Homo sapiens: one gene and its partners. The protein of the gene in region 1 purifies or fractionates together with the protein of each later gene. This does not show direct contact. Each region holds a gene or a part of one and is shown in the gene's direction. Other genes may lie near its edges. The genes, in order: SAV1, USP9X, WRAP53, SEC16A, CREB3L2, BAG1 and TIAL1.

The links.
Region 2: the proteins of SAV1 (region 1) and USP9X purify together in Homo sapiens (affinity purification with western blotting; one study listed by BioGRID). This does not show direct contact.
Region 3: the proteins of SAV1 (region 1) and WRAP53 purify together in Homo sapiens (co-immunoprecipitation; one large-scale study listed by IntAct). This does not show direct contact.
Region 4: the proteins of SAV1 (region 1) and SEC16A purify together in Homo sapiens (affinity purification with mass spectrometry; 2 studies listed by BioGRID and IntAct, with this or other methods). This does not show direct contact.
Region 5: the proteins of SAV1 (region 1) and CREB3L2 purify together in Homo sapiens (co-immunoprecipitation; one large-scale study listed by IntAct). This does not show direct contact.
Region 6: the proteins of SAV1 (region 1) and BAG1 purify together in Homo sapiens (affinity purification with mass spectrometry; 3 studies listed by BioGRID and IntAct, with this or other methods). This does not show direct contact.
Region 7: the proteins of SAV1 (region 1) and TIAL1 purify together in Homo sapiens (affinity purification with mass spectrometry; 2 studies listed by BioGRID and IntAct, with this or other methods). This does not show direct contact.

The regions. Positions count from the first base shown.
Region 1 is NC_000014.9:50,658,307-50,661,806, reverse strand, and holds part of SAV1 (protein salvador homolog 1), read left to right. Parts: intron 1-3,500. UniProt on the Homo sapiens protein: Regulator of STK3/MST2 and STK4/MST1 in the Hippo signaling pathway which plays a pivotal role in organ size control and tumor suppression by restricting proliferation and promoting apoptosis.
Region 2 is NC_000023.11:41,214,445-41,217,944, forward strand, and holds part of USP9X (ubiquitin carboxyl-terminal hydrolase 9X), read left to right. Parts: intron 1-123; coding exon 124-265; intron 266-1,454; coding exon 1,455-2,208; intron 2,209-2,775; coding exon 2,776-2,899; intron 2,900-3,500.
Region 3 is NC_000017.11:7,698,477-7,701,239, forward strand, and holds part of WRAP53 (telomerase Cajal body protein 1), read left to right. Parts: intron 1-2,264; coding exon 2,265-2,353; intron 2,354-2,763. UniProt on the Homo sapiens protein: RNA chaperone that plays a key role in telomere maintenance and RNA localization to Cajal bodies. Specifically recognizes and binds the Cajal body box (CAB box) present in both small Cajal body RNAs (scaRNAs) and telomerase RNA template component (TERC).
Region 4 is NC_000009.12:136,473,041-136,476,540, reverse strand, and holds part of SEC16A (protein transport protein Sec16A), read left to right. Parts: coding exon 1-2,492; intron 2,493-3,500. UniProt on the Homo sapiens protein: Acts as a molecular scaffold that plays a key role in the organization of the endoplasmic reticulum exit sites (ERES), also known as transitional endoplasmic reticulum (tER).
Region 5 is NC_000007.14:137,877,283-137,880,086, reverse strand, and holds part of CREB3L2 (cyclic AMP-responsive element-binding protein 3-like protein 2), read left to right. Parts: 3' UTR 1-2,804. UniProt on the Homo sapiens protein: Transcription factor involved in unfolded protein response (UPR).
Region 6 is NC_000009.12:33,254,709-33,258,208, reverse strand, and holds part of BAG1 (BAG family molecular chaperone regulator 1), read left to right. Parts: intron 1-1,300; coding exon 1,301-1,408; intron 1,409-2,281; coding exon 2,282-2,344; intron 2,345-2,900; coding exon 2,901-2,990; 3' UTR 2,991-3,500. UniProt on the Homo sapiens protein: Co-chaperone for HSP70 and HSC70 chaperone proteins. Acts as a nucleotide-exchange factor (NEF) promoting the release of ADP from the HSP70 and HSC70 proteins thereby triggering client/substrate protein release.
Region 7 is NC_000010.11:119,586,965-119,590,464, reverse strand, and holds part of TIAL1 (nucleolysin TIAR), read left to right. Parts: intron 1-2,216; coding exon 2,217-2,313; intron 2,314-3,500. UniProt on the Homo sapiens protein: RNA-binding protein involved in alternative pre-RNA splicing and in cytoplasmic stress granules formation. Shows a preference for uridine-rich RNAs.

The DNA.
Region 1 (3,500 bases):
TATAGAAAGACACATAGACCAATGGAACAAAAATAGGTAATGCAGAAATAAATCCACATATTTACAGCCAACTGATTTTTTTACAAAAGCACCAAGAACGTGCATTGGGAAAAGGACACTTTCTTCAATAAACGATGCTGGGAAAATTGGATATCCACATGCAGAAGAATGAAATCTGACCCTTGTCTCACCATATGCAAATTCAACTTGAGATGGATTAAAGACTTAAGACCTGAAATTATAAAAGTACTAGAAGAAAATGTAGGGGAAACACTTCAGGACATCGATCTAACAAAGATTTTATGGCTAAGACCTCAAAAGCACAGGCAACAAAAACAAATAGACATATGGGACTATATTAAACCAAAAGGCGTCTGCACAGTAAAGGAAACAACAGAATGAAGAGACAACATATTGAATAGGAGAAAGTGTTTGCAAAAGATTCATCCAGCAAGGGACTAATATCCAGAATATGCAAGGAAGCCAACAGTAAGAAAAACAACCCCATTAAAAAGTGGGCAAAGGACATGAATAGACGTTTCTCAAAAGAAGACATACAAATGGCCAAAAGGTATGTGAAAAAATGTGCAACATCACTAATCGTCAAGGAAATGTAAGTGAAAACCACAGTGAGGTGTCTTACCCCAGTCAGAATGGCTATTGTTAAAAAGACAAAAAAATATACTACTGGTGAGAGTGTGAAGAAAAGGCAACTGTTACAGACTGTTGGTGGGAATGTTACAATAATTAGGACAGGCACTATGAAAAACAGTTTGGAAATTTCTCAGAAAACCGAAAACAGAACTACCATATGATCCGGCAGTTCCACTGCTGGGTATCTATCTAAAGGAAAAGAAATCAGTATATCAAAGAAATACCTGCACTCCCATGTTTATCATGTCATTTGCAGCAGCTTGAATGGAACTGGAGGTCATTATATTAAGGGAAATCAGGCACAGAAAGAGAAGTGTCTCATGTTCTTACTCACATGTGGGAGCGAAACACATTGATTTCATGGAGATAGAATGATAGCAGAGGTTGGGAAGGATGGGAGGGGAGGTAAAGAGAGGTAGGTTAATGGGTCCAAACATAAAGTTAGATGGAATAAGTTCTAAGGTTTGATAGCAGAGTAGGGTAACTACAGTTAACATTTTGAAATAGCTAAAAGAGAGGACTTGAAATGTTCCCAACACATAGAAATGATAAATACTCACGGTGATGGATACCCTAAATACCCTGACTTGATTATTTCATACTCTTTGCATGTATCACAATATCACATGTACCCCATAAACATGTGCAAATAATTATGTATCCAAAAAATGCTATAAAACAATGTTACCACCTGACTGGGCTCTTGTCTGCTATCCGAATAGAGCAGAACACTGAGACAGCAGATACTGTAAAGAAGAAAGAGTTTAATTATTGCAAGGCAGCTGAGTAAGGAGGATGGGAAATGTTTCTCAGAGTCATCACCGCCAAGACTGGAGAAGCTAAGATATTTAAAGATGATTTGGCAGGCAGGGGGCTAGGGGATGGGTGCTGGTGATTGGACTGGTATGAGATCATAGGGTTATCAATGCTGTCTTCATGTGCTGAATCAGTTGCTGGGAAATTGGGGAGTCACAAGACCAAGTCAGTTCCTTGGTTGAGTTCATGGAACACTGGTCCATTTGGTGTCAGTTGGTCCACTTGTAAGCAAAGTCTGAAAAATATCTCGAAGACCAGTCTTAGGTTTTACAGTAGTGTTTGTGACTGCCAGTTACTATGGAAAGAAAGCTGGGAAAAAATGGCAGGTTACTGTTTAAACCTATAGCTTAGCAGAAGAGTTTGCAGGAGGTGAGATCACCAGTGATCAAAGTGGCCTGGCCTGTTTGGCCAGTCCAAATTCTGGAAACTATCAAGGGGGTCTGTGTGATCTAGGATCATTGTTTTCTTGTTCTTCTCTTCTATTTTCTTTTTTGAGACAGGATCTTGCTCTGTTGCCCGGGCTGTAGTGCAGTAGCATGATCACAGCTCACTGCAGCCTCGACCTCGGGCTCAAGCAATCCTCCCACCTCAGCCTCCTGAGTAGCTGGGACTACAGGCATGCACCACCACACCTGGCTAATTTTTTGTATTTTTAGTAGAGACTGAATTTCAGTGTTGCCCAGGCTGGTCAAACTCCCAAGCTCAAGCAATCTGCCTGCCTTGGCCTCCCAAAGTGCTGGGATTACAGGCATGTGCCGCAGCACCCAGTCTGGATTATTGTTCTTTAAAAGAAACAGGTTTGTTAATCTTATGGGCAGCCTGCCCAGGGGCTGCCACAGGAAGACAATTATTAGTGACTGCCATTTGTTGAAATGACTTTGCAAGCAGTCATACATGGAGGTGGAAAAAGAGAAGGAAAATATTTTATCAAAATTCGGGCCCCTACCGTAATTTTAATCTTGAGGGTGTTTTTAATTTTATGAGGGAGGCTTCAGCAGGAGTCAGCAAGCTACACCCATAGGCCAGATAGACTTGCCTCCTGCAATACAGTAGTTTTATTGGAACACACATGCACTGAAATAAGATTTGATTTCATGGAATAGCCAAGACCTTGTTTTAATGAGACAGTAGACTTCTGCCTTCGAAGTCTCATCCCAGGCTCTTTTATATCAGATTGCGTTAGGTTTAAAGAAGGTTGCAGGTAGTTGAAGAATCTCAGGTAATAAGGTATCTCTCCCAACCAAAAAAAAAAAAAAAAAAAAATTCTTTACAGCAGTTGATACACTGCTTGAGAGCTTGAGAGACTTCATTTGATAAGATTAATTTTTATCAGGGCAATATAGATTTAATGTTTTACCTTGTAGAAAAAAGTAGTACTTTTTTTGAAGGAATCTCTAAAGTTGCAGGGAAAGATTAATAACCAATTACATGCCAAACAGAAAAGCCTAATAACTGCCTCTTCCACAAGGGAAAAATCTGAATATGAGACAGTAGCTGAAAGTTTCTTGAATTCACCTTGAGAAGACTTAAAACATATTTTTAGGATTTATGCTGAATAAGGTTCAAGGAATTTGAATGAATAGAAAGGAGAAAGTAAGTTTGTAGGAGGATAGGATAGGTTTGTGCGATAGATCTATTTTCAGAAACATTGAATTTTGATTGTCATAAGCATAAAAAGGTTGGAAAATTTGTTTTGTAATGACTTAATGGCAATAGTAATTCCTGTCAATTAGTTATTAGATTTTCAGGAAACACCTTGTGTCAAGGGTTAAATTCAGCTTATTGTATTTAGTAGAAGCACAAAAACAAGTTGTATAATCTCAGAAAGTTTTAGAGCCTAGAAAGTTCTACGTTTAGCTGTAGAACTTTCAGATTAGAAAATTTGACCTTTAATGTTCTTGGCCGCATACCAGTCACGCACTTACTGTATGTTCCAAAGAAAGGAATCCTGCTGTTAACAGGAAGTCTTTAGTTGGAATACTAAAGGCAGACTGAATTCCTTTGTTTTGCGCTTAAATTTTAGTTCTGTC
Region 2 (3,500 bases), on another chromosome or scaffold:
GGACATGTACCCTAGAACTTAAAGTATAATTTAAAAAAAAAAGGCAAATGTAGTTTACATTAAGTCCATAACTAAAATGTTTACAAAACTAAGGGATAAATCCTTTTTTTAAATCGTTTTTAGGTACGAATGTGAAGAATCTTTTACGACCCTAAACGTAGACATTAGAAATCACCAAAATCTTCTTGATTCTTTGGAACAGTATGTCAAAGGAGATTTACTAGAAGGTGCAAATGCATATCATTGTGAAAAATGCAATAAAAAGGTACGGGCTGTCCAGTTTTGTTTAATTTTGATTACATTTAATGGATTTAGAAGAAATTGGTTTTTTTGGTTCATCCTCACAAGTCACCCTATTTTTATTTTCTCCTACTTTGGTATAGTGGTAGCAGAGAAGTAGTCAATATGATAACTAATAGAAGGTTTGGCAAGGAAGGAAAAAAAGTAGTGCCAAAGGGGCTAGGTAAATAAGATAAAAATAGGTAAATAAGAGTGAATAATTTTAAAAGTCATAACGTGATAGCACATTCTCTTATATAAGTTACACAGACACTTTCCATCTCTACCGAGAAACAAATTGCCATTGAACCCCTCAAAGATACAGAGCTGATAGAGGAAAACATTTCTCCTGTCATGTCCAGGATTACTTGTCAAGACCAAAACATTTGCTGAAACCATTAATTACTTTATTGAACCACATAAGATTTCTTTTAGACTAGTCAAGTGGCCCATAAGATTTCTTTTATCACCTATGTTATAAAACCATTTATTTTGGAAACTTATTAGCAGTTCTTTGAGAGAGATGATTCACACGCATTATAGTAATGAATAAGGTGTATCTTTGGGAGCTCCCAAACCCTTTCACCCTCAAGTCACTTGTGTTGTTTTGGCCTTATGCACCACTTAGAGAAGTCCTGAAGTTTAAAGATTGAGATTGTGGGCTGTAAAGCCATACTGCCTGCCACCTGCAGCTCCTGAGACCTGAGGCAAGTTACTTGACCTCTCTGTGATTACTAGTTTTCATCTTTTAAGGTTCAGTAGTACACACTTGAGAAGGTTGTAAGGATTCGGTATGTTTTTACTTGTGCGGCACTTAGTATATATTACCTGGCATCTGAATTACCCAACAAATATTAGCTACTCTTATTGTTATTGTAGTTCTTTGGTTTGTGCATAGGAAACCACCTTCGTGGGAACAACAGTAAACATCAAACAGGTAATAATGGCTAGATAACAATGACAGAAACCAGTCAACAATTTACCATTTGCATATTATTAATTTCAGCATTTAAATCAGCTGATAGGATTATCTTGATTATGCTCATTGTCATGTATTTGTTTATACTTAAAAATTCAGATAAGTCTTAATATCATTTAAAAGTTTGCTTGGGGTTTTTTTTTTTTTCCTGTGGATTTTAATAGAACATCTGGTAACTTTGTCTTGTTTATTTTAGGTTGATACCGTAAAGCGCTTGCTGATTAAAAAATTACCTCCTGTTCTTGCTATACAACTAAAGCGATTTGACTATGACTGGGAAAGAGAATGTGCAATCAAGTTCAATGATTATTTTGAATTTCCTCGAGAGCTGGACATGGAACCTTACACAGTTGCAGGTGTCGCAAAGCTGGAAGGGGATAATGTAAACCCAGAGAGTCAGTTGATACAACAGAGTGAGCAGTCTGAAAGTGAGACAGCAGGAAGCACAAAATACAGACTTGTGGGTGTGCTCGTACACAGTGGTCAAGCGAGTGGGGGGCATTATTATTCTTACATCATCCAAAGGAATGGTGGAGATGGTGAGAGAAATCGCTGGTATAAATTTGATGATGGTGATGTAACAGAATGTAAAATGGATGATGACGAAGAAATGAAAAACCAGTGTTTTGGTGGAGAGTACATGGGAGAAGTGTTTGATCACATGATGAAGCGTATGTCATACAGGCGCCAGAAAAGGTGGTGGAATGCTTATATACTTTTTTATGAACGAATGGACACAATAGACCAAGATGATGAGTTGATAAGATATATATCAGAGCTTGCTATCACCACCAGACCTCATCAGATTATTATGCCATCAGCCATTGAGAGAAGTGTACGGAAACAGAACGTACAATTCATGCATAACCGAATGCAGTACAGTATGGAGTATTTTCAGTTTATGAAAAAACTGCTTACATGTAATGGCGTTTACTTAAACCCTCCTCCCGGTGAGTATCAAGAGAGTTTAGCTTCTTAGTAATAAAGAATAATTTATAGTAGGCGTCAACATGTTTAAGTTCATAAAATTAATGTTTTCACTTTAAATGAGTCTAATTTGCTGGGTGTGGTGGTTCACGCCTGTAATCCCAGCACTTTGGGAGGCCGAGGTAGGTGGATCACCTGAGGTCAAGAGTTCAATACCAGCCTGACCAACATGGTGAAACCCCATCTCTACTAAAAATATAAAAATTAGCCAGGCATGGTGGCATGCACCTGTAGTCCCAGCTACTCCCTGTAGTCCCAGCTACTCCGGAGGCTGAGGCAGGAGAATCGCTTGAACCTGGGAGGTGGAGGTTGCAGTGACCCAAATTGATGGCCACTGCACTCCAGCCTGGGTGACAGTGAGTCTCCATCTCAAAAAAATAAAATAAAAAAATAAATGGGTCTAAATTAAAGTAGCCTGAGAAGGGTTCTTAACAAATTTAGGACTTCTCAAAATTAATGGAAACACAGACTTGTTTGAAAATGGGGTTGGAAAATAAAAATGTGTTTTTATATCTGCATTTTATTTATAGGGCAAGATCACCTGTTGCCTGAAGCAGAAGAAATCACTATGATCAGTATTCAACTTGCTGCTAGGTTCCTCTTTACTACAGGATTTCACACAAAGAAAGTAGTCCGTGGCTCTGCCAGTGATTGGTACATTGCTTTGGATTTTCATTCCTATTATACTAATGTTTGGTTTGCTTCTTTAATAGATTGCTTTATGTTTTTCTAAACCAAGAGAATTTTGTTTGAAGTTTGGAATATAGAATAAAAACTCTGGGTCACAATAGAGAAATCATATTAAAATAGTTACTTAGTCTAAACATGGCCTTTTGTTATTCAGAAGCTGACTTCTGCTTCTATTACCTTGTATCATATCTTTGACATCCCTGCACCAAAGACTACAAGCTGAGACTGGGGGACAGTGACTCACACCTGTAATGCCAGCACTTTGGGAAGCCAGGGTGGGAGGATTGCTTGAGCTCGGGAGTTCAGGACCAGCCTAGGCAACATAGTGAGACCCCCATCTCTTCAAAGAAGATTTTAAAAATTACCCAAGTATGGTGGCGCACACCTGTAATCCCAGCTACTCGGAAGGCTGAGGTGGGAGGATCGCTGGAGCCTGGGAGGTTGAAGCTGCAGTGAGCCATGACTGTGCCACTGCACTCCAGCCTGGGCAGCAGAGCAAGACCCTGTCTCAAACAAAACCAAAGATTACAAGATGAGACTGAAAAGTGTAAGCTACTTATGAAAT
Region 3 (2,763 bases), on another chromosome or scaffold:
ATCCCAGTGCATTGAAAGGCTGAGGTGGCTGGATTGCTTGAGGCCAGGAGTTTTAGACCAGCGTGAGCAACACAGACCCCTGTTTCTACAAAAAAATAATTTTAAAGATTAGCCGGGCAGGCTGGGCGTGGTGTCTCATGCCTGTAATCCCAGCACTTGGGAGACTGAGGTGGGTGGATCACGAGGTCAGGAGTTCAAGACCAGCCTGGCCAAGATGGTGAAACCCCGTCTCTACTAAAAATACAAAAAAATTAGCCGGGCGTGATAGCAGGCGCCTGTAATCGTAGCTACTCAGGAGGCTGAGGCAGAGAATTGCTTGAGTCTGGGAGGCAGAGGTTGCAGTGAGCCAAGATTGTGCCACTGCATTCCAGCCTGGGCGACAGAGCGAGACTCCGTCAAAAATAAATAAATAAATAAATAAATAAATAAATAAGCCAGGTATGGTGGCTTATGCTTATATTCCCAGTTACTAGGGAGGCTGAGGCCAGGGGATTGTTTGCTTGAGCCCAGGAGTTTGAGGTTTCAGTGAGATGATTGCGCCACTGTGCTCCAGCCTAGGCAACAGAGTAAGACCCTGTCTCTAAGAAAAGAAAAAATTAAGTCTAAAGACCTGCAAGACAACGTTAGATACTGTTTTTTTTCCCATATGAATATACTCCTAGGCTGGGCGCAGTGGCTCACACCTGTAATCCCAGCACTTTGGGAGGCTGAGGCAGAAAGATCACTTGAGGCCAAGAGTTCGAGACCAGCCTGGCCAACGTGGCGAAACCCTGTCTATACTAAAAATACAAAAAATTAGCTGAGCATGGAGGTGAACTCCTGCAATCCCAGCTACTCGGGAGGCTGAGACACAAGAATTGCTTGAACCTGGGAGGTGGAGGTTGCAGTGAACTGAGATCGTGCCACTGCACTCAGCCTGGGTGACAGAGTGAGACTCTGCCTTTAAAATTAAAAAAAAAAAATTTATATATATATATATATTTATATATATATATATATTTATATATATATATATATATATATATTTATATATATATATATATATTTATATATATATATATATTCCTAAGGAAATGTATGACAGTGATAAATTCAAGATAGTGTTTACCTCTGAGGGAGAGTTTCTGTTAGGAAAGGGGTTTAAACATATCTTTTTGTTCAGCTGGATGGAGGGGTCACAGGGCTGTTTTTTTAATAAGATACTTTGTATGTTTGAACTGTTTAATTTTTTTTCTTTATTTTTGTAAGGAGGTTTTTTTGTTTCCATTTTTGTATTTTTGAGACAGTGTTTCTGTTGCCCAGGCTGGAGTGCAGTGGCAATGATCTCAGCTCACTGTGGTCTCTATCTCCTGGGCTCAAGCAATTCTCATGCCTCAGCCTCCCTAGTAGCTGGGACTACAGGCATGCACTACCATGCCCAGCTAATTTTTTTTTCTTGTAGAGACAGTGTTTCACCATATTGCCCAGGCTGGTCTTGAACTCCTGGGCTCAAGTGATCTGCCTGCCTCAGCCTCCCTAAGTGCTGGGATTACAGGTGTGAGCCACTGTGCTCAGCCGATAATTTTTTTCTTTTCTTTTTCTTTTTTTTTTGGGGGGCACTGTCTCTCTGTCACCTAGGGTGGAGTGCAGTGGTGCGATCTCAGCTCACTGCAACCTTTGTCTCCTGGGTTCAAGGGATTCTCCTGCCTCAGCCTCCTGAGTATCTGGGATTACAGGTGTCCACCACCACGCCTGGCAAATTTTTGTACTAATATTTTTTTAAAGGATCAAATGGCACCTAGCATGTACTCAGTAAGTATTTGAATAATTGGTTGGTTCTTTGTCTCTGGGTTGAGGTATTATTATTTGTTTCTTCCTCTCTAAGTGTTTATAAAGAAAAAGTATAAGGCCCGGCACGGTGGCTCACACCTGTAATCCCAGCACTTTTGGAGGCTGAGGCGGGTGGATCACCTGAGGTCAGAAGTTTGAGACCAGCCTGGCCAACATCATGGTGAAACCCTGTCTCTATTAAAAAAAAAAACAAAAACAAAATTAGCCAGGCATGGTGGTGCATGCTCTGTCTCAAAATAATAAAAAAAAAAAAGTATGAATCTATATGGCTTTTGGTGGCTAAATTTGACATTAAAGTCTGAGCTCACCCTTGAACATTGAGACAGAGTCTGTGCTCCATATATACACCCCATCTGCCACAACACTGCTAGAGGCACGCGCCTCAGACTCCTTTTCCCTCCGAGTGACTCAGCCATTCCCCCGTCTCTGTATAGGTCCCTGTCCTTCGAATGGTGGAAGGTGATACCATCTATGATTACTGCTGGTATTCTCTGATGTCCTCAGCCCAGCCAGACACCTCCTAGTAAGTAATGTTTGCCTCCCTGCTCGCCGCCCCACCACCCAGTTTCAAGCAGGGCCTCTTGGGAGAGTCAAGGGCTGCCAGGGGTCTTTGGAGGAGGAAGGCTTGGCATGCTTATCAGAGGGGCTGGTCAGTTGGCTTCCTCCCCTTCCTTTTTTTTTTTTTAGATTGAGTCTCCCTCTGTCACCCAGGCTGGAGGGCGGTGATGCAGTCTCAGCTCACTGCAACCTCCGCCTCCCAGGTTGAAGTGATTCTCCTGCCTCAGCCTCCTGAGTAGCTGGGATTACAGGTGTGCACCACCACACCCAGCTAATTGTGTATTTTTCATAGAGATGGGGTTTCACCACGTTGGCCAGGCTGGTCTCGAACTGACCTCAGGTGATCCACCTGCCTTGGCCTCCTGAAGTGCTTGG
Region 4 (3,500 bases), on another chromosome or scaffold:
GTGCCCCGCTAGAAGCAGACTCAGGAGCTTCAGGAGCTCTGGCGATGTTTTTCCAAGGGGGAGAGACAGAAAATGAGGAGAATCTCTCATCTGAAAAAGCAGGCTTATCTGGTCAAGCGGACTTTGACGATTTCTGCTCCAGCCCTGGGCTAGGCCGTCCGCCCGCACCTACACACGTGGGGGCAGGCAGCCTCTGCCAGGCCCTTCTCCCAGGCCCCAGCAATGAGGCTGCTGGTGATGTGTGGGGTGACACAGCGAGCACAGGGGTGCCGGATGCCAGCGGCTCGCAGTATGAGAATGTTGAGAACTTAGAATTTGTTCAGAATCAAGAAGTTCTGCCAAGTGAGCCCCTCAATTTGGACCCTTCCTCCCCGAGTGACCAGTTCAGATATGGGCCCCTTCCTGGGCCAGCTGTGCCCAGGCATGGTGCTGTGTGCCACACCGGAGCCCCTGATGCCACACTGCATACAGTGCACCCTGACAGCGTGTCATCCAGCTATAGCAGCAGAAGCCACGGAAGGCTCTCAGGCTCAGCCAGGCCCCAGGAGCTGGTTGGCACATTCATTCAGCAAGAAGTTGGAAAACCCGAGGATGAAGCTTCAGGTAGTTTTTTTAAGCAAATCGATTCTTCTCCCGTAGGAGGTGAAACAGACGAGACCACTGTGAGCCAGAATTACCGTGGCAGCGTGTCCCAGCCCTCAACCCCGAGCCCCCCGAAACCTACAGGAATATTTCAGACAAGTGCAAATAGTTCTTTCGAACCGGTAAAATCTCACTTAGTTGGGGTAAAACCATTTGAGGCAGATCGCGCCAACGTGGTTGGTGAAGTAAGGGAGACCTGTGTCCGCCAGAAGCAGTGCAGACCAGCTGCCGCCCTGCCCGATGCTTCCCCTGGCAACCTGGAGCAGCCACCAGACAACATGGAGACCCTCTGTGCACCCCAGGTCTGTCCCCTGCCTCTTAACTCCACCACGGAAGCTGTGCACATGCTTCCGCACGCAGGGGCACCGCCCTTGGATACTGTGTATCCAGCACCCGAGAAGAGGCCTTCAGCCAGGACCCAGGGGCCCGTGAAGTGTGAGAGCCCAGCAACGACTCTGTGGGCGCAAAGTGAGCTGCCAGATTTTGGAGGCAACGTCCTTCTGGCCCCTGCAGCCCCGGCGCTTTATGTGTGTGCAAAACCTCAGCCACCTGTTGTTCAGCCTCCAGAAGAGGCGATGTCCGGGCAGCAGTCACGGAACCCAAGCTCGGCGGCCCCGGTGCAGAGCCGAGGTGGCATTGGTGCTTCTGAGAACCTTGAGAATCCTCCCAAAATGGGAGAGGAGGAGGCCCTTCAGTCCCAGGCGAGTTCTGGTTATGCAAGTTTATTATCCTCACCGCCCACTGAGTCTCTGCAGAATCCTCCAGTCTTGATTGCTCAGCCTGATCACAGCTATAATCTGGCTCAGCCCATTAACTTTTCTGTGTCCTTATCGAACTCTCATGAGAAGAATCAGTCCTGGAGAGAGGCTTTGGTGGGGGATAGACCTGCAGTCAGCAGTTGGGCTCTCGGTGGTGATTCTGGGGAGAACACTTCTTTGTCTGGGATTCCAACCAGCTCTGTCCTTAGCTTGTCTCTGCCTAGCAGTGTTGCCCAAAGTAATTTTCCACAAGGTTCTGGTGCTTCCGAAATGGTTTCTAATCAGCCTGCTAATTTGCTGGTTCAACCACCATCCCAGCCAGTTCCAGAGAACTTGGTTCCAGAAAGTCAAAAGGATCGTAAGGCAGGAAGTGCTCTTCCCGGATTTGCTAATAGCCCTGCTGGAAGCACAAGTGTGGTGTTAGTTCCACCTGCACACGGCACCCTGGTGCCTGATGGTAATAAGGCAAACCATTCCAGTCATCAGGAAGACACTTACGGAGCCCTAGACTTTACCTTAAGCAGGACTTTGGAAAATCCTGTAAACGTGTACAACCCGTCCCATTCTGACAGCCTCGCTTCTCAGCAAAGTGTTGCCAGTCATCCCAGACAATCTGGGCCTGGGGCGCCTAACCTTGACCGTTTTTATCAGCAGGTCACGAAAGATGCCCAGGGCCAGCCTGGCCTCGAAAGAGCCCAGCAGGAGCTGGTGCCACCCCAGCAACAGGCTTCTCCCCCACAACTACCCAAAGCCATGTTTTCGGAGCTGTCAAATCCAGAAAGTCTGCCCGCACAGGGACAGGCCCAGAACTCAGCACAGTCACCAGCAAGTCTGGTTCTGGTCGACGCGGGTCAGCAGCTGCCCCCTCGGCCTCCTCAGTCCTCTAGCGTGTCTCTGGTGTCCAGTGGCTCCGGCCAGGCAGCTGTGCCGTCAGAGCAGCCGTGGCCACAGCCAGTGCCTGCACTTGCCCCCGGCCCACCGCCTCAGGACCTGGCCGCCTACTACTACTACCGGCCTTTGTACGATGCCTACCAGCCTCAGTACTCTTTGCCGTACCCACCGGAGCCTGGCGCAGCCTCCCTCTATTACCAGGTAAGAGTCGAGTCGTATGTGTAACCCACTTTTCTGTCTGTGCTTTGACCAGTTGAGTCTCACTCACAGTGTATTCCTTAGTAGTGTTTGTTCGCTTGGTTCCGGGGTCACCCACAGTCCCGCAGGCGTGAGAACAGTATTCCAGTAACGCTTCCTGAGGACAGGGCTCCCGGCTCCAGAACCTACTCTCCCAAGCACAGGCCACCCTTAGTTCACACCACGCGTTAGCATCTTGAATTGCTTATAATACTTGCTTAGGATTTGAACCAGCCTCCCCAGCTTATGTGACAAAAAGAGCCCTCCATTTGCTGTCACCCCTGCTCCTGCTGGCTGTCTGCAGAAAAGTTCTGTCTTGCATGCCTTGGGAAGCTGGGCTAGCCTCTGGAAGCTTACGTCAGAAGCATTGGGTATAACCATAGTCCTTTAAATGCCCCTGGAGAATAAAAACATGGAGAGAAAATAGTTTTGGAGCATGAGCCACACGCATCAGCTAAGCGAGGCGGAGTCCCGCAAGCTGCTGTCAGCACGTGGTGGTGCGGGCAGCGGCTCGGGGACCGGCTGTGCTCGTGCAGAAGATTCTTCTGTGCCTCTTTTTCACAGGGACACCAGCTCATGAGTGACATTTGAGTTAGGTTCCGCATAATCCTGCAGTCGTTCGAAAAGTGTCTGTGTACACATTTGATCATTATCTGCTTTTCCTACCCTCTAACCCAGTTCAACATACACCGATTGGGTTCACCGATTCAGTGTCACCCCAGGTAGAAGGATTGTGTGATAGGGAATTGGAAAACCATGGTCTTGCGGTATGTAAGGCCAGTTGGAACCAGACTTGGGGCCACACAGGAAGGCCTTGCAGTCAGAAGGGGGCCCGCCCCGAGGAGCAAGGCTGCCGTGGCTTGCTGGGTACTGCCCCGGGGAATGGGGCTGGGCCTCCCCCATGGGCCTCGAGCATCATGGTTTGTGTGCGTGTGACCAGGTGCACACCTGACCCCTCAGACCTGTGTAGGT
Region 5 (2,804 bases), on another chromosome or scaffold:
GCCACAAAAATGCCATAATGCCTGTTGGTATTTGGCAAAGCACTGACCCGTGTCCTCCGTTGCTCGCACTGGGGTCTCTGGTGTGAACACCCCCGACAGCAGCCCTCCGCCCACTCTGCCCCCTGGGAGCCCTCGCTGGATCGTCTCGTCTCCTGCAGCAGCACTGGCAGGCGAGGGCTCTCGTTCATATTCTCAGGCCGCAAGTGCAATGCCTGAGGGGATCAGGCTTTTCTACTCCAGGCAAACCTGCCCCATCTTGTCGCTTTTAGGACCTCCCACAACCTGGTTCCCCACACATCCATAGTTCTGCCTCCCCAGCTTCTCCTCCCCAGTTGTAAATAGTATTTATTAGCTTGCCGAGGCTTCCTGCTAGCAACCACACTGAAGAGATCGATGCCTCCTTTCAAGCTAGCCAAGTTTTCTGCGAGCCTTCAGAGCTAGGAGGGCACCCTAGGCTCTGGGATCCCGTGTCTTTCCAGACAATGTTTTGTTTCCTTTCCTTTGTTTTTTCTTTTAACTGGAATAATTACCATTGAAAAAGAAGTTCCTTTGAGCATGTATGTGTCTGCCTCTAGGATGAGCTCAGAGCGAGAGATGACACAATGCCTCACTCAGGCCCCGGGCTCCCTGGCCACAAGCTTTTTCTATCCTGTTTTCATGACAGAGAAGGGGAAGCCCTGTTCTGACAACAGACATTTCAGACAACCTTGCTGGCTTTCCACACCTGCCTGGCCCCCTCCTCCCTCCACACTTCCACTTTGTCCTCCTCGTCCCCTACCTCAACAAAGCAGGGTGGGGTAGGTGACATTTGTGTATCCACATTCTTACCTTTGGTAGTCAGGTTTGGCTACTTTGCAGCTCGCCCAAAGAGATACAACCTAATCCCCAACCTACTTTTAGTTTTTTTGTTTTTTTTTTATGGTTAAAAGTAACTTTTGTAGTTTAAAAAAATCTTTCCTCTTTCATATAAATAAGAAGTGGAAATTGCCTTTTTATTGTGTAATGTAGAAAACCCTCAAGTGTTTTTTCCGAGCTTGGGAAAGATTTTGTGTAGGAAATGTGCATAGAGTTTGTATTTTATTTTTATTAGCAGCTGAAATGCCTTTGGTTTTGGCTTCTCTCTCTCCCTCTCTCTCTCTGTCTCTCCTTCTCTCTCTCCCCCCACCACCCACCCCCACACACGTCATCTGCATTGTTATTGGAGCCTGTACTTAGAGGGATTAAGCCCACACCCTGGCTTCCATTCCATATCAGGTACAGGATTTGATGTTATTAACATTTGTCGTCATACCTCATAAGTCGGTCCCTGCCTTGTCTGTCTAGGCCCATTTGGGGCTCCCTGTGAGTGATTCCCCTCTCTCTGCTATGCTGGAGACGGTTCCAGCCTGGAAAGCGGCCAAGTTCATCTTCTCACTGTGAGTGGAAGCTGGATCGGGCCCCCGTAGTCCTGGCAGCCCTGTTGTCTGGAGGGTTCTTGTTGTCCCTCCCATTAGCCAGGGCGGAGACTGTCTGAGCTGTGCAGGAGGAGGGTTGCTAGTAGGTTCTGCTTCTGCTTCTCTCTGCTCCACTGTCTGCAGCCCAGATCCTGTTGGGCCTGGCTGGTGTCTGGTAACCATGGGCCTCCACTGACCCATCCCTCTCTTTTAAACTGTCAGGTCATTATCAGGCATAGGCAGCCTATAGGGCCCAAAGAAGGCAAAAAGATAAGATTTACTCAAGTAGCATTTGGGCAATGAGGAAGGAAAGGTTTCAAATTTAGGGGCAGAAGTGAGAGAATGAGCCAACCCATGTACCTGCTGCAACTGAACCAGACTGGGTTTTCAAGGCTCCCAGACGTAGAGTAGGAAACGTGCTCTTCTAAATGAGGAGGGAGAAGATAAAGGAAACTTCTAGCCCCTGTCCTTAGTGCTTTGAGGATTTTATTTTCTCCCTTACTACGCTTGCTTGACGTCACTCTCTCTCGACCTCCAAACAGCAGGACTCTTTCTCTGGGAAACCATCCTTCCAAAACGGAATCTATGTAGACAATGGGACGTTAGGCAGAGAGCTCAGATGGCCCTTTTAAGGGGGCTCCAAGAACCAACATCACTGCTCTTTTAGATAAACCTCTGCCCTCCACTCCTTGCTTGAGTGGGTTAAAGGAACTAACAGTTGTCCCTTTAGGAGGACAAAATGGGGTCAAGAGGACACAGAAGAGTTGTATAGCACCAGATTGGTTCCAAATAGTTAATGGATGTGTGCACATTTTCTGTTCAGGGATTAAGACCAGAATATCAGTGGATTTGTTTTCCCCACCAAGTGGCCTCTTAGACTAGTCATTAACTTATGATTAGCTCTAAAGATTTCAAATAGTGGCAGACAGTGTCTTCTGAATGTAAGTTTTGAGAAATACGAGTCTGTCAGAGCGGCCATAAGCCATAAAGAGTCAATCTCTTAATTATATTTTTCATCATGTAAACAAGTTTCCCATTTCCCTTTCTTAGATTGCACCAGTGAAGGAGATGTTTTGCAAAGATTCAGAGAACTAATTTTTCACTGGATAAGACCTGAGTAACCCAGACCCCCCACCGTGGTTCTTTTCACAGCCCTCGACTTTGCACTTAAAAAGGGATATTGTAAATGAAAGGCTGCAGTGCCAGTTTTAAGAAAGAATTTCTGTGAAGTGTGAGGACTCTGGAGTCTAGCTCACATAAAGAGAGTGTTATATAAAAATCCGACAGCTGAACTAGGTTGCTCTTTTTTGGCAGGGAGTGGGGATGAGATTTGACACCAATATGGGCAAAATTAGATAACCTTTTGGTTAA
Region 6 (3,500 bases), on another chromosome or scaffold:
TTCTCCTGCCTCAGCCTCCCGAGTAGCTGGGATTACAGGTGCCGCCTGCCACCACATCTGTCTGATTTTTTTGTATTTTTAATAGAGATGGGGTTTCACCATGTTGGCCAGACTGGTCTCAAACTCCTGACCTCAAGTGATCTGCCCGCCTCGGCCTCCCAAAGTGCTGGGATTACAGGCATGAGCCACTGCGCCCGGCCTATATGTTTGTGTTTTAATTACAGAATACATGCTGACTGTACAAAAGTTTTAAGTACATGTATAGGCACTAATATGGAAAATAAAAATTACCCATGGGGCACCAACTCAGAGATGACGATTACCAAAGCCTGAAATATATTTTTCATCTTAAAAAAATTTGATATAATGTTATTTACACTTTATAAACTATTCTTTTATTGGATAAAAAATTAAACATTTTCCTGTGATGGTATTTTTCAAAGCTCGCATGCATTTCATCTTGTATAAATGTATTATTTACCTAGCCAACTCTGTATTGTTCATTTAATATTATTTTTACCATTATGTGTAATGCTTCTTTGACTGTCCTTGGACGTAAATCTTTTTTGACCATTCCTGGTTTTTTTGGTAGAATAAATTCTTTGAGTTGGAATTGCTGGGTGATGTTTAAAGCTCTTGCTACGTGTTGTGAAATCTGTGTCTGTAGCTCGTGGCTGTGATAAACATCCTCAGAGATCCCTGCTATCCAACTCTTGTCACCAGCTAACTGGTCATTAGGCCAAGCTGTGTGAGTGAACCATTAGACAATTTGATAAAAATAAGCACTGCTGCCATTCTTTAGCATGCGTCTGTGCCACAAGTTAGTGACACATGTACATATATTCCCTTTACCTCACAGTAACCATCTAGGGTGTGGGCATCATAATCTTCATTTTTAAAATGAGGGTACTGAGGCATGAATAGGCTAAATAATTTGCTCAAGATCACAAGTTAGTAAATGGCAGTCAGTTTTCAGGCGTAGGCTTTGAAGACTCTAAACCTGTGCTTTTAACATCTGCCTCTTCTTGTGACTGGGGGCTTCACTGGAGCCAAGCCTCAGGAGGCATTTGCAGCCACAGTGGGTCATGCGAGGTAGAGCAGACTGCAACCTGATAGAATTCTTGGACTGGCCCACGGCCAGCCTTTTTAATTTTTCCAAGAGTTAAAGTTGTGGATCTGAGATGTGGCCTGGCCTGCCAGGGCTATGGTGGGCTCAGTGTGATTGCATCATTAGTATTGTGGCATGGAGTCTTCCGTCAGCCTCAGAGAACCCTTGCAATAATGCATTATTTCCCCGCAGGGTTTTCTGCCCAAGGATTTGCAAGCTGAAGCTCTCTGCAAACTTGATAGGAGAGTAAAAGCCACAATAGAGCAGTTTATGAAGATCTTGGAGGAGATTGACACACTGGTAAGTAAATATTCAGCTGAGAAGAACTAGTTTTCTTTGACTTTATTTCAGTCACATTCACTCTTTCAGTAATTTACTCTCCTATTGCCTGAGCAAACCCATCACTTGAGAATATTAAGCATCTACTATTGTGTGCCAGTCATGTTGCTAGGTCCTGGGTGAATGCATGATGATAAGACAGTTCCTGCTTTCTAGGCACTCACAGCCCTCCAGCATAGGACTTTTATCATTTACACTTATGTTTGCCAGTAGCATCTGTAATCGTCATGAAGCTGGGACCCAAGGAGTCCACGATCTCATGGTCCAGGAAACAGAGGATTTAACTTTCTCTGATGAATATGTGACTGATAATTCTGCAGGGCTCATTACTTATAGATGATTCAGCCAGACCCAGGTCATGTGAGGCCATTGAAAATCATTAACTCTTTTGCAGATGATAGTAATGATATCTCTAGCCTGATGCTTCATTCTTGAAGGTGAACTGCACTGTGTACTTCTGTTGGCCAGGGTGGGTGTAAAGAAGCAGCAGCAGGCACTTTTCCTGTCACAATGAGCCCATGGTGTGGCCAGGGCAGAGTATCCATACATAGGAAACAATAAAAGAACAAAGTCTGTGTTAAAGATCAGTTCCTATGGCCCAGACATTGAGAACACAGGGAGCTTTTATAGGGACAAGAGCCATGGAAAGGCCATACAGGATACAGACCCAGGGAAAGGGTTCCTGAAAATGGATATCACATTTACATTGGTGACCTGTGACCTGTTTTGTGTACTGTGGGTGTTTCTTATGTGCTCTCATGTCATTTTCACTGAGGATTATTTGTTACATGTTTACTATTTACTAACTTGTATTATCAACTTACTCTTCCATAGATCCTGCCAGAAAATTTCAAAGACAGTAGATTGAAAAGGAAAGGCTTGGTAAAAAAGGTTCAGGTGAGTTGTGTAATAGTGCACGACAAGGTGTAATATGTTAATGTGTAGGTATGTGTGTTTATCTGTTCAAAATCAGGTAGTGTAGGAGCGTGGTGTGTGGTATGGGCTTGTTTTGGTTATATTTATCAGCAGGAACCCCAAACGTCAGAGAAGAGCCACCTGTGTCCCTGTAATTATATTTGAATTTAAACTATTTAGGGAGGGAACTCACTGGAGAGCAGGTAGGGCTGACACATTACACAATTCCAGGAGGCAGTATTCATGCACACAGTGCTTCCTGCGATTGTGCAGTTGCTGTGCAGTGGCCCTGAGGCAAAGCTCCCTGCCTTTACCACCTTTTAGGGGATTGCTGGCCTAGAGCATGGTCAGAATGCTGGTCCTATGCTCCCTCCCTCCCCTTACCTTGGAACCCAGGCCAGTGGCCCATCTCCATTCATGCACAATCTGTTTTGAGTCTCAGCCATGGGTTCCCCAGAATGGGTAAGCAAGGAGCCTTGTGTGGGCAGTGGTCGGCTACCCCTGGATGGGCCCTTACTGCCCCGTGTGTATTTTCTAGGCATTCCTAGCCGAGTGTGACACAGTGGAGCAGAACATCTGCCAGGAGACTGAGCGGCTGCAGTCTACAAACTTTGCCCTGGCCGAGTGAGGTGTAGCAGAAAAAGGCTGTGCTGCCCTGAAGAATGGCGCCACCAGCTCTGCCGTCTCTGGAGCGGAATTTACCTGATTTCTTCAGGGCTGCTGGGGGCAACTGGCCATTTGCCAATTTTCCTACTCTCACACTGGTTCTCAATGAAAAATAGTGTCTTTGTGATTTTGAGTAAAGCTCCTATCTGTTTTCTCCTTCTGTCTCTGTGGTTGTACTGTCCAGCAATCCACCTTTTCTGGAGAGGGCCACCTCTGCCCAAATTTTCCCAGCTGTTTGGACCTCTGGGTGCTTTCTTTGGGCTGGTGAGAGCTCTAATTTGCCTTGGGCCAGTTTCAGGTTTATAGGCCCCCTCAGTCTTCAGATACATGAGGGCTTCTTTGCTCTTGTGATCGTGTAGTCCCATAGCTGTAAAACCAGAATCACCAGGAGGTTGCACCTAGTCAGGAATATTGGGAATGGCCTAGAACAAGGTGTTTGGCACATAAGTAGACCACTTATCCCTCATTGTGA
Region 7 (3,500 bases), on another chromosome or scaffold:
GCTGGGATTACAGGCGTGAGCCACCATGCCTGGTCACTTGTTCATTTTTCTTACAGATAGGTCTACTCTGTACAAAAAGAAATCATTTCAGAGATACAGGCTCACAAACCCCTATGAGTTAAGAAGGGGCAAGCAGCCTATCGCTGGCTCATAACCCAATAACCTTTTAGTCCTGCTGGAAAAAGTATGTCACTACATTGGCCTGCTGATGGATCAGCTCCTTAATTACGTGGAAAAGGTGGCATAGTGGACGTAAAACAGTTTGTCACTTGTTTAGTCCTCTAGTTAGGTAATATTGGATGTGTGTTTCAATTTTAGAGCAGGTACACTAAGATTATTAGTACTCATTGCAATAAAATTCTTAACTGGAAAATCGCTACTAATTCTTAATTGGATCTTTTAAGTTTTTTACTTAACCTAAGCTTTCTCAGTCTATTTTTCCCTTTGAGTATTCCATCTTAAAGCATGTTGTGTATTTAATGTGGCAGCTATGTTGCAAGTCTTATTTTGGTCTTAATACTCAGTTTCCAGATGTAATATATTACAAGTAGAAAAAGAAATCTACTTTCCAGAATGAACTTTGTTAAATTTTACAGATATTGTTTGGTTTATGAGGTTGTTCATAACAGATGCAAATTTGAGGAATTATGTGTAGAATACCAGAAAGACTTTAGTGTTTGGCAATTTATTTAGATAAATTAAGATAAATCCATAGTACAAGACATAAACCAAGGTGGTCCTCTCTGTGTGATGAAGTAGCATTTTTTTCTTTTCTTTTTTAAACTTTCCTGTATTTAAAATCTTTTACACAAAACACATTCAATTGTAATTAGGAAAAAAAACCCAAATTTTTAAGTGTCCATAGTCAAAAGTATGCCTGGATTTGTCTTAGTTTTTCTCTGAATTTCTTAAGAAATCTTTGTATTAGCTTTTTTATCTACATTAAGATATATTTTGTTGGCTGGGCATGGTGGCTCACTCCTGTAATCCCAGCACTTTGGGAGACTCAGGCAGGTGGATCACTTGAGGTTAGGAGTTTGAGACCAGCCAGGCCAACATGGTGAAACCCCGTCTCTACTAAAAATACAAAAATTAGCCGGGCGTGGTGGTGCACGCCTGTAGTCCCAGCTACCTGGGAGGCTGAGGCAGGAGAATCGCTTGAACCTGGGAGGCGGAGGTTGCAGTGAGCTGAGATCATGCCACTGCACTCCAGCCTGGGTGACAGAGTGAGACTCCATCTCAAAAAAATACATATATATTTTGTTGATTCTGATGCATTTTAGACTAGGAAATTTTATATTTTACCCTGCTCTCCTAAAATGAAACAGTGAAGACATCATTGCAAACAACCTTACTCAGCCAAAAACAAAACAACAAAAACCCTCCACCCTCTGTATGTTTTACTATAACTTTAATTCTGTTCTTTGTTCATGTAATTGCTTTGGTTGGGAATCTAAGATAAACTCACTTTATGTTTAATATCCTATTACAATCAGATGTTTTAATGAATTAGTATTTGTTGTATGTGTGTGTGTGTTATAAATTATTTTTAATTAGAAATTGTAGTTATCTTGAGACCAGTTTAAAATTTTAACAATTAGAATAAGATGAGAAAATGATATCCAGGGTACAGAATAATAATGCCATTGGGGTATACAAGATCACATTGATTTGTTCTTTAAATGTCTTTCAGAGTGGTATTTTAGTGGCCTAAGAACAATTGTTGCTTTCCTAAATAAGGGTTAATCTTACTTTCATAGGATCAGGTTTAATTGGAGAAATTTTGTTGAAAACAGAGGAAGTTAAAATGAAATAAAAGGTGGCCGGGCGCAGTGGCTCACGCTTGTAATTCCAGCACTTTGGGAGGCCAAGGCGGACAGATCACCTGAGGTCAGGAGTTCAAGACCAGCCTGACCAATACGATGAAACCCTGTCTCTACTAAGAATACAAAAATTAGCCAGGCATGGTGGCATGCGCCTGTAATCCCAGCTACTTGGGAGGCTGAGACAGGAAAATCGTTTGAATCTGGGAGGCGGAAGTTGCAGTGAGCTGAGATCATGCCATTGCACTCCAGCCTGGGCAACAAGAGCAAAACTCCATCTAAAAAAAAAAGAAAGAAAGAAAGAAAGAAAGAAAAGGTGATGAATTAGATGATAACACATTAGAGCCAGAGCTAAAGGAAAAATTGCTGATAACGTATTTTTTTCTTGTGCAGATACGTAGGTAACCTTTCCAGAGATGTGACAGAAGTCCTTATACTTCAGTTGTTCAGTCAGATTGGACCCTGTAAAAGCTGTAAAATGATAACAGAGGTAAGATCTTCCCAGTTCCATGTGCTGACAATTAGCATGATGGGTTGATTAGCATGATTTTAAAATTTCATTGTAAGCCTCAAGTTATTCTGGTGGAGAGATTTGTGTTGTGTTGACTTATTACTTTGATTTGGCTGACAAACTAGGCTTAGAATGGAGTTTTATTTAAGAGGGCAAAGTTTCCGTGCTGTTAAGCTCAAACGGTCATTCTTCATGGTGTGGTTATCTTGAAGTGATTCTGCTTTCAGAACATTATTAGAGCTCATTTCAGAATGGTGAAAAATTGGAAAGTATTTCATACAATTCCAATAAGAATGTTAACGATTTAGACAGCATGTGTTCATGTGCGAGAACACGAAGTTATTATGTGTGTAGTGTGCAGCACCGTTCGTCTCGTGTGTCTGTAGCAAATACTTACCTTTTTATACTTTCCTGCTAAGACTGTAGCAGCACCCAATTAGTCATGTTTTAGGCTTTTCTTCCTTGTGTTTTTGTTCATTGATCAGCTTTCTTTTTTTTTTTTGGACTATTTCCTATGTACTAGATACTGCAGTAAGTGCTAGAGATACACTGGTGAATAAAGATAGTTCCTTGGCCCAGAGAATTTTACAGTTTAGTAGGGAGACAAAGGAGTTAGCAGGCACTTAGGAAGTAGGATAATAAATGCTCTAGAAGCAGACAACTTAAAGTGCTGTGGGAGCAAATGTGTATCCAGTGCAGCCTTAGGTCAGTGAGCGGCTTCTTGGAGGACTCACTGCCTAGGCGGAAACCTTGAAAGGATAGTAGTACATACTGGCTAGAAAGGAATTGAGGGAAGAAGGGATTCCAAATAAAGGGAACTTTGATCCAGGTTGGTAGGGAGAGCAGGAGTGCTTGAGACAGAGAGGGAAAAATAGAACCCGTAGCATGGTTGTAGTTAAAATGGAATTAGTCGTAAGAGATGGCAGGAGTTTATGGAAAGGGCTAGAAACTGTGCTAAAGAGTTTGTTTTATCCTGAAACGGAGAACTGTTAAAAACCTTTAAAGTGCATTGGCCTTTTGATTGTCTTTCCCAAGTAATGACAATCATCATTTTGTTCTGGTGTATTATATTTTTCCTTCCTGCCTTTAATTATTTATTTGTGCTTTCATCGATCAAAAATTTCCTTTGCACTAGGCACTATACAAGGTACTGGAGATATAATGGA